2 separate regions of the Homo sapiens genome follow, and region 1 is linked to region 2. The links come from fine-mapping of genetic effects on gene expression. A gene starts in region 2. The other region holds a variant in brackets. All regions are shown on one strand. Distances are between the middles of the regions.

The links. PIP is the estimated chance that this variant, and not a neighbour inherited with it, causes the effect. A credible set is the group of variants that fine-mapping cannot tell apart.
Region 1: its variant is the best candidate, but not a certain one, in a credible set for the expression of CDCA4 in thyroid (GTEx, PIP 0.63).

The regions. Positions count from the first base shown.
Region 1 is chr14:105,069,944-105,074,250 of GRCh38, forward strand. No RefSeq gene overlaps it. Among named protein-coding and RNA genes, the nearest start is that of GPR132, 6.7 kb to the left of the region's middle. RefSeq lists enhancers at 1-1,014, 74-353. The variant A/G (reference allele first, on the strand shown) is at 2,563.
Region 2 is chr14:105,019,004-105,023,455 of GRCh38, forward strand. CDCA4 (cell division cycle associated 4) reads right to left here and starts at 2,080. Exons shown (of 2, transcript NM_017955.4): 1 at 1,996-2,080. RefSeq lists enhancers at 145-805, 1,257-1,772, 2,287-2,800, 2,816-2,875 and silencers at 1,426-1,515, 1,526-2,415, 2,446-2,515.

The sequences.
Region 1 (4,307 bases), 51 kb after region 2:
TGGGTGTTAGTGATGCAAGCAGGGGGTGGGGACCGGATGACAGGCCAAGTGGGAAGAGGAAAGGCGGAAGTGTCCTGAGGTTTCTGTTGGGGGACAGCTGCTCTGGTAAGAAGGCAAGAGGCCCCAGGTCTCAGCCAGGGAAGGGGTTTTTAGGGAAATTTTGAAGACAGCCTCCCCGAGACAGAAGAGGCAGGGGAAGATAGGGGCTTTTGAGAAGTGTCAACCCAAGAACTGGATCATTCTGAAACTCCTTGTTGCCAGCGCATGTTCCTTTGACCAGGGCATACCCCCAATGTGAATCATGAGTCATGGTTTCAACAGTCATAGTGTGTCCTAGTGAGGCCAGGGAGAGGCTGCCTGTGACCCCAGAAAACCCAGACGACCATGCCTAACCCACCTAATCCACAGAGTTTCCTCTTTCTCAGGGCTGGCACGACAGCCTCCACAGCCATGGGAAGCCCCCAGCCTTACCTCATGGTCCCAGATGGCAACTTGATCTCCAGCCTTCACATCTGTGTTCCAGGAATGAGGAAGGAGCGAAGGAGAGCAGGGCACGGCCCGTCCCCTGTGTGGAGAATTCCCGGAATTCCCACCCAGTTCGCCTGCTCCATCTTCCCTCTTTCCTGGGCCCAACGTAGTCTTGTGACCACATCTGGCAGCGAGGGAGGCTAGGAAACGTAGTCTTTGATGTCACTGCGCCAGCTGATGCTGGGTGTTCTCCTAATCAGGAAGGGGGCGCGGAGTCGGCGATGTGTGCTGCAATGGCACACACTGTCACCAGCTTTTCTTCCACCCAGCAAGGGCAGGTCCCTGGCAGCTGAGCGAGGGGCACGCTGGCCAAGCCCAGGGACTCAATTACCCCAAATGAGAAAAGGGTCAGGGGATGTTGAACTGGGAAGAAGGAGGTGGAGCCCCGAGGCCAGAGAAGCTGGGCGTATGAGAGAAAGCTTTTCTTCCATACTGTAACTCACAACGCCTCTGGCACTTCACTTCTGGGGTTAGGTTAAGGGCTCAGTCACCCGTGACTGCCCTGACTTCAGACACCAGTCATGGAGGGGTGGGTCCCCAGGTTACCCACTACTTCTGAATGCCTTGGCTGTGACAAATGGGAGGTCTGATGACTCTCTCCTCGGGTTCAGTCATTTGCTAGAACAGCTCACAGAGACTAGAACAACTGTTTGTTTCCTACTACTGAATTTTTTTTCTGTCATGCTCTCTCTCAGCAGAATGTTTTATATTATATATATCTATTTTTATTTTACATTTGCAGACAGGTCTGCCTCTGTCACCCAGACTGGAGCACAGTGGTGCAATCTTGGTTCACTGCAACCTCTGCCTCTTGGGCTCAAGCGATCCTCTCACCCCAGCCTCCCAAGTAGCTCGGACTACAGGCATGAGCCGCCACGCCCAGCTAATTTTTGTATTTTTTGTAGAGAGAGGGTCTCACCATGTTGCCCAGGTTGATTTTGAACCCCTGAACTCAAGCGATCTGTCCACCTTGGCCTCCCAAAGGCGTGAGCCACCGCACCCGGCCACTTCTGGCTTATTACTAAAGGAAACAACTCAGCCAGCAGAGATGCTCAGGGCAAGGTATGGGGATGCGGGTGGAGCTCCCACGGCCTCTCCGGGCGCCTCCCTCCGAGAGCCTCCACGCGTGCACCAACCCAGACGCTCTCCAAATCCCATTGTTCTGACTTTTCATGGAGGCTTCATCACACAGGCTTGGTCTCCAGCCCCTCCCTTCCCCAGAGCATGGCGGGTGAGGCCAGAAGTGTCAAGCTGCTCATCGTGGCTTGGTCTTGCTGGCGACCAGCCCCCATCCTGGAGCTACCCAGGAGCCCAGCAAGAGCTGCCTCATTGGAACAAAAGATGCTCCCATCACCTAGGCAAGTCTAAGGGATTAGGAGCTCTGTGTCAGTAATGGGGGACAGAGACCAAATATATATGTCTTATGATGTCATAAGAGGAGCCAAAAGAGGAGAAAAAGATGGAGGAGGAGGAGGAACACCCAGTGGGAGCGGGATTTGGTTCATTGTGAAGGAATTTTCTCCCCACGGGAACCCCGGGAAAACCCACATCAAGCCTTTGCACGCAGGATTGGTGTCAACCACCAAAACCATCCATCCACACTCCCGCCGTCCATCCACACGCCCGCCTGCCCGTCCACACGCCCGCCCGCCCGTCCACACGCCCGCCCGTCCGTCCACATGTCTGACCGTCCGTCCACATGCCCGCCGTCCATCCACATGGCCGCCATCGACTGACGTCAGCAGACCTCAGTATTCCCTGTCTCCATCCACATCACTCGCTCTTCCAGGGCAGTCTTGCCTAGGGAGATGAAGATGGCAAACAACCTTGCTGTTCAGCTCAGGAACTTCCAACATGCAATGGACACTTCTGTAGGAGGCATCAAGCCGTTCTTGGTGATATCTGTGTCTTCATCACGTGCTGGTTGCACGGGTGTTTAGGTAGGAACTCTCTGTGGAGCTGTGGGCATGACTGTGTCTGTGTCTTCAGTAGAGTTGAGAGGTTTGAGAGCAGTCATGAGGATTAACAGCAGAT[A/G]CCAGGAGGCTGCTCGCTGGTCCTGTCAACACGGCCATGTAGTCAGGATGCCAGCTCCCCCACCAAGTCAACTTTGGGGAGCTTGGCAGAGCCGTGACTCCAGGAGGCATCCCTGGACTCTCGAAGCCCCCTGCTGTGTGTGTGTCAGGGGGCTCTGAGCCCAGTGAGTGGCTGTCCCTGGGGCAGGCAGGGGGCACTTGAGGTGCCACAGAGGACACGGACCGTAGGAACCACGAGAGGGGCGGATGGCCCAGAGCCAGGGTGTGGATGACTGCCCTGGGCAGCTGGGGTCGGGAGGCAGCCTTTTCACTTCAATGAGAATGGTGTGCAGCTGGGATGGGACAGCCTCTCAGAAGGAGAGAAGGGACGTAACAGAAAGGTATGGTGGGGACACCAGAAAGCAGAGGTGCGGACAGGGCACTCCCTTGCTCTCACACCTGTGGGATCATCCCATCCCTGGCCGGCTCCAGCTCTGCCCACATTTCTCATTCCTCCTTTGGGTCTCATCAGAGTCCCCGCATCCCGCAGGAAGTGCCCCCACAGGCAGGCCTGGGTGGAGCTGGGTAGTCTTCCTCTGTGTCCCCCTCACCGCCCCCGCTTCCCAGCTCCAAGCAGGAGGCTATGTCCCTGCCGCCTCTGCCCCTACAAATGGACGGTTGCCAGCTGAAGGAATGAGCCCAATCCCGGCTCCTGCTCCCTGCCCGTGGGATCTGGGCAAGCTGCCGGACACTTTGGGCCTCAGTTTCCCCCTTACAATGTCTGCCTTTTTGTGGGGTCCTTGGGAGCTCCCTGTTGTTGGTTACACCAGTGGAGTGGACAGAGGCTCAGCCTAAGGGTGTTTCCAGAAAGGCCATCTGCTGGAGGGGGGCTGGGAGCATCCCTGGAGACAGAGAGCTTTAGACTAGCTGCTGGGGTGGGTGCGGTGGTGGGAGTGGAGCTGCTGGGGGCAGAAAAAGGGGCTTCCAAGGGGCATGCGGGTTCTGGCAAGCTGAATCCCTCACCGTAAACCATGCACCTGTCCAAGTGAAGAACTGCTCCAGGGCTCGCCTGGGCCAAGAAGGGGCTGCAGGGCACCCTACGAGGCCATGGTGGCTAAAGATAGGCTGAGCAAGCCAAGGGCCCTAAGCCGGCAGCCAAGGGTGGCCTGGGGGCTGCAGTGGGGGCCTGGGGGCTGCAGAGCCGGCCCCCAGCCTCTCTCCACCTCTGGCCTCTCAGCTCCCTGAGGGTGGTGTCCACGGCCAGCTGCTCTCCCCTCAGGGTGGAAGACCTGGGGAAGCCCCCAGTCTCAAGCTACAGCCTTGATTTCTGGAACAATCCCAGGACAGGACTCTGGCCCATCAGGTTCTGCAGCCCACCCTGGGCAGAGTGGCTCCTCTTCTGGGCAGCCCATACCTAGTGTGGTCGAGGCTGGGTTGCCCAGGCCTGGCCAGACGAATCTGGGTCCTTGTGTCCAGCTGGGCCTCGGAGCCTGCCACGCCCCCGGCACCACCACCCCCCTAATAAACTCCCCTTCCTCTACCTGTTTCCTCCACCAGCCTCTGGGTCTTGCTCCCTGCCAGGGTCCAACTCACAGCCACCTCCGCCACTGCTCCCGCGGTGACCATGCGTCCACGGCCCCCCAGGACCATGCTTGTCATTCTCTTGCCCTCTCTGCTTGGCGCGGGGTTTGGCTGCAGTCTGGGCTGCTCGATGCTCCCGGGGCAGGGGCTATTCCCCTGTGGTCTCAAGCTCTGGGCTGGCAGGGG
Region 2 (4,452 bases):
TGGATTACAGGCGTGAGCCACCATGCCTGGCCCCCTGCTCAGTTTTGAAGCTCTTTCTACACATCTAGTTAAATGCCTAAAATCCCACCAACTCCACAGGTTGTTACCGGGACAGCCAAGCCCTCAGTCAACTCCCAGCACTGCCCTCAGGCTTCTAAACCAAGCACCGACCAGACAGAGAAAAACGAAGAGGGCCAGACGGACTGAGGACATGTCCGACATGGCAGGTGGAACAGCCAACAGGCCACTAGGGACAGAGCAACCTAGGCCCACCGAGGCAGAGGCCAGCAGGGAGCAGCCCCGCAGTGCTGCTCAGGCAAGCAGAGTACAGCTCGGGGACTGGTCCTTCACTACAGCAGCAGTGGCCACACCTTCGTGGCTGAGCAATACCACGAGGCTGGCTGAAAACGCAGATTCCCAGATTCTGATCAGTAGGGCTGGGACGGTTGGGGACAGACTCAACTCTGACCTAACCTGTCACCTTCACAGCTGGACTTGCAGCCACTTCAAAGTTTCGGGTTTTTAAGCAAATCATCAACAATTTCCATTCCTCACACATCAGATAAGCTTTGAAATACTTTATCGGAAAAACAGGGAGAAGAGGAGCAAGGTCTGCAGTCTTGAGTACTGAGTGGGAGCTCCACCTTCCACTACAAGTCTCCTGGAGGCTGTTCATGAACAATTACTGTTATGTTAATTTCAGGTATTTGGTTTTTTTTGTTTTTTGAGACGGAGTCTCGCTCTGTCGCCCAGGCTGGAGTGCAATGGCACGATCTCGGCTGAGACCTCTGCCTTTCTGGTTCAAGCGATTCTCCTGCCTCAGCCTCCCACATAGCTAGGATTATGATTACAGGCATGCGCCATCACGCCCAGCTAATTTTTGTATTTTTAGTACAGACGGGGTTTCACCACGTTGGCCAGCTAGTCTCGAACTCGGGACCTCAGGAGATCCACCCGCCTAGGCCTCCTCTCAAAGTGCTGGGAGGTGTGAGCTACCGCGCCCAGCCAATTGCAGGTACTTTTGTTACTTGGAACGAAACACACTCCTTCTTTTCCCTGAAAACATGTTCCAGTGGCAAGTTGAGGGAAACTTCCTAGCCCCTTTTCCAAGATACAGCCTACTACTCTTCCTAGAAAAGGGGTGTAACTCACTTTGTATTCTGGATTTCCACCCTAATTATAAAACACGGTGACACTTGAAAATAGAGTGGTTGTACGTAGAAAGTTGATAAAACGTAAGTTTTGTGAACAGGCAATGTTTTTCTGTGGCTCGCTTTGAGAGAACGGTTATCTGGGTCCCGCCGTCCCGTGCGTCCCACACGAAGGCCACAGGAGAAGCGAGGCAGCGGAGACCCTCTATTCCAGCAAGCTGTCGGAGCCTTTGCCACGACGATCCTGTTTGCGGGGCGAGAAGCGTCTGAAGACGCGGAGGGAGGCTTGCGTCTGACTTCTGCAAGTGTCTCGGGGACTTTCCCTAGTCCCACCTCGCACCGCCGGAGGAGCCCAGGGAAGACGGCGCTGGCCGACCCGCCCGGGGTCTGGGCCTCCTCCCACATCCGCGGCCCTCTCCGCGGCCGGGCTCCGACAGAGGGGGCTGCGGCGCGCCTGGCGTTCCCTCCGCTGCAACTAGAGCCGAGGTACGGGAAACGCCGCTGCGTACCCCAGCCGGGCCCTCGTGAAGCGGCTCCCGCGTGGGGCCGCCCGCAGGCCTCGGCAAAGCCCCAGCTCCGCGCTCCGCAAGGAACGCAGACGGCGGCCCGGGCCCCTCTGTTCCCCGGGCCCCCTCAGCAGCGGCCACCCCGCGGGGGAACCAGCGCCCAGGAGGGCGGCGAGGGCGCCGCGGCAGCCCCAGCGGTGGTCCCGGGCGCCGCCTCCGCCCCGGACCCAGCGCCAGGAGCCACAGACTCCGCGCACCGCCCCCAGGCTCCTCCGCGCCCTGCAGCACAAAAGTGCACGCCGCCGTAGACGCCCTAGCGGTCCGCCGGGCCCGCTCACCTGACCCGCGAGGCCGCCCGCCGGGTCCTCTGCTCAGCCACCGCCACCGCCGCTGCCGCCAGCTTCCCGCCGCTGAGGAAGGAGCGCCCGACGGCGCGGGGCGGGGCGAGCGACCGCCACTCGGCGTCCACAAAGGGTCGACGCTGCGCTCTCCGCGCGCTACGCCCGCTGATTGGCCACTCGCGGGCCGGGGGCGGGGCCTCTTGTTCAAACCCACGCGGGCGGGGCATCTGTGGCGCGTCTTCCCGCGCTGCGGCGACGGCCGTTGGGGCTCGCGCGCGCCCTCGGTTGCCCCGCCCCCGCCCCTGCGCCCGGCCCCGCCACGCCCACGCCCCGCCGGCTCCCAGGTCTCCCCGCGCCCAGTCCGGCCCCGCCCCGCCAGCTCCCAGGTCTCCGCGCGTCTGGCCCTGAACTGAACGCGCCTGCGCCTGGGGCCCACGTGGGGCCCTCGGGCGGGCGTGGCGGGGCAAACAGAGGTTTGGACTCTCTCGCTTCTGCCTGGCTCAACTTCTCCGCCGAGGCATCCGTGCCGGGGTCGGGAGGAGCCGGGCACGGCAATTCCCGGGCGGTCTGGGCTCCGAGGTCTATCCAAGCCTCTCCAGAGACCGGGGTTATCTCCAAAGGCTTCCTAGGTTTACACGTAAGAAATGTAACGTGAAAGTTCAAAGCAGGGGACACGTGTTTTAAATCTCTTAGTGGAAAAGGTTTTAAATAGGATGCGAGAACCTGCAATCATTGACTTAAGTAATACCCTGAGCGCCTGCAGCAGGCCCGGCAGGCGTGGCTGCAGCTGAGAGCCAAGTGCTGGAAGTTGGGGGGGAATCCTCAGATCAATCCGCAGGTGCGGATGCGCCAAGGTCGGTGGTAAATGCTGAAATGCTGTCGGGAAACCTGGGAGTGACGTGGGGGCGCTGCTCACATAGGTCTCTAGGATAAGGAGCGTCTTAAAGCACCAAAAGGAAGAGTGGACGAGAATTCAGGAGAGGAATGGCTGGGGCAAAGCCCGAGGCAGGGGCAGGAGGCAGGAGCACGTCTCAGTGCAGTGAGAAAGAACCCTGTGATCTCGTGGGAAAGTTTTAAGTGTGAGGGGTGGAGGGACTTTTGGGCTATTCTGGGAGTGGGATGGAGACTACTGGCATGGTCAGCAGAGAAGGAACTGGAATCTGAATTGTGCTTGAAAAGAATCACTGTTCTTATTTAAAAAAAAAAAAAAGGGGGTCTCTTTCGCCCAGGCTGGACAACAGTGGCGTGATTATGGCTCACTGTATCCTCGAACTCTTGTGCTCGAGTGATTCTCACGCCTCAGCCTCCCAAGTAGCTGGGACTACAGAAGTGTGCCACTACACCAAGCTAACTTTTTTTTTTTTTTTGGTAATTTTGTAGAGACAGGGTATTGTCTTGTTACACAGGCTGGTCTCCAACTCCTGGCCTTAAGTGATCCTCCTACCTTGGCCTCCCAAAGTTCTGGGATTACAGGCATGAGGCACCACAACCACCAAGAATCACTGTTGGTAATAGATTTGGAGGAGGTGGCAGGAAGGCTGGAAGTAGAAAATCCCATTAGGTTACTGCCCAGGTAAAAGAAAATGGGACTTGATAAAGGTGACTACCTGAGAATTTAAAGTTTATGCATGTCAAAGTGAAAAGACAAATGGGGAAAAAAGTTTTTCCTGGCTGTATCCCACATAAAGGTTAAATTCCTTAATATACAGATATTCTGCAAATGCAAATGAAATCTAGATCACCAAAGAAAAGTGGTTTGGAAATAGTGGCACCCACCTGTAATCCCAGCTACTCAGGAGGCTGGGGTGAGAGAATCCCTTGAGCCCAGGAGTTGGAGGCTGCAGTGAACTATGATTGCACCACTGCACTCCAGCCTGGGCAGCAGAGTGAGACCCCATCTCTTAAAAAAAGAAAAGAAAAGTGGGCGTAGAATATAAACACAGTTCAGAGCAAAGAAAATACAAATGCTCCTATACAGGCGAATAGATGCTCAGCCCCAATCAGAACAAGAGCAGTGGAAATTAAAGCTATGCTGGAGTGCTGTTTGCCACGGGTCAAATTGGCAAAGATCTAAAATAATGTCTGGAGTAAGATAATATCTTCCAGAGCATATTAGTCTATTCTCATGCTGCTAATAAAGACATACCCGAGACTGGGTAATTTATAAAGAAAAAGAGGTTTAATGGACTCGCAATCATGGCAGGAGACAAAGGAAAAGCGAAGGGACGTCTTACACGGCGGCAGGCAAGAGAGCGTGTGCAGGGAGCTCCCCTTTATAAAACCGTCAGATCTCAGGAAATGTATTCACTATCCGGAGAACAGAACAGGAAAGCCTGCCCCATGATTCAGTTACCTCCTGCCGGGTCCCTCCCACGACATGGGAATTATAGGAGCTACAATTCAAGATGAGATTTGGTGTGATATTTTGACATGTATATACAAAGTATAATGATC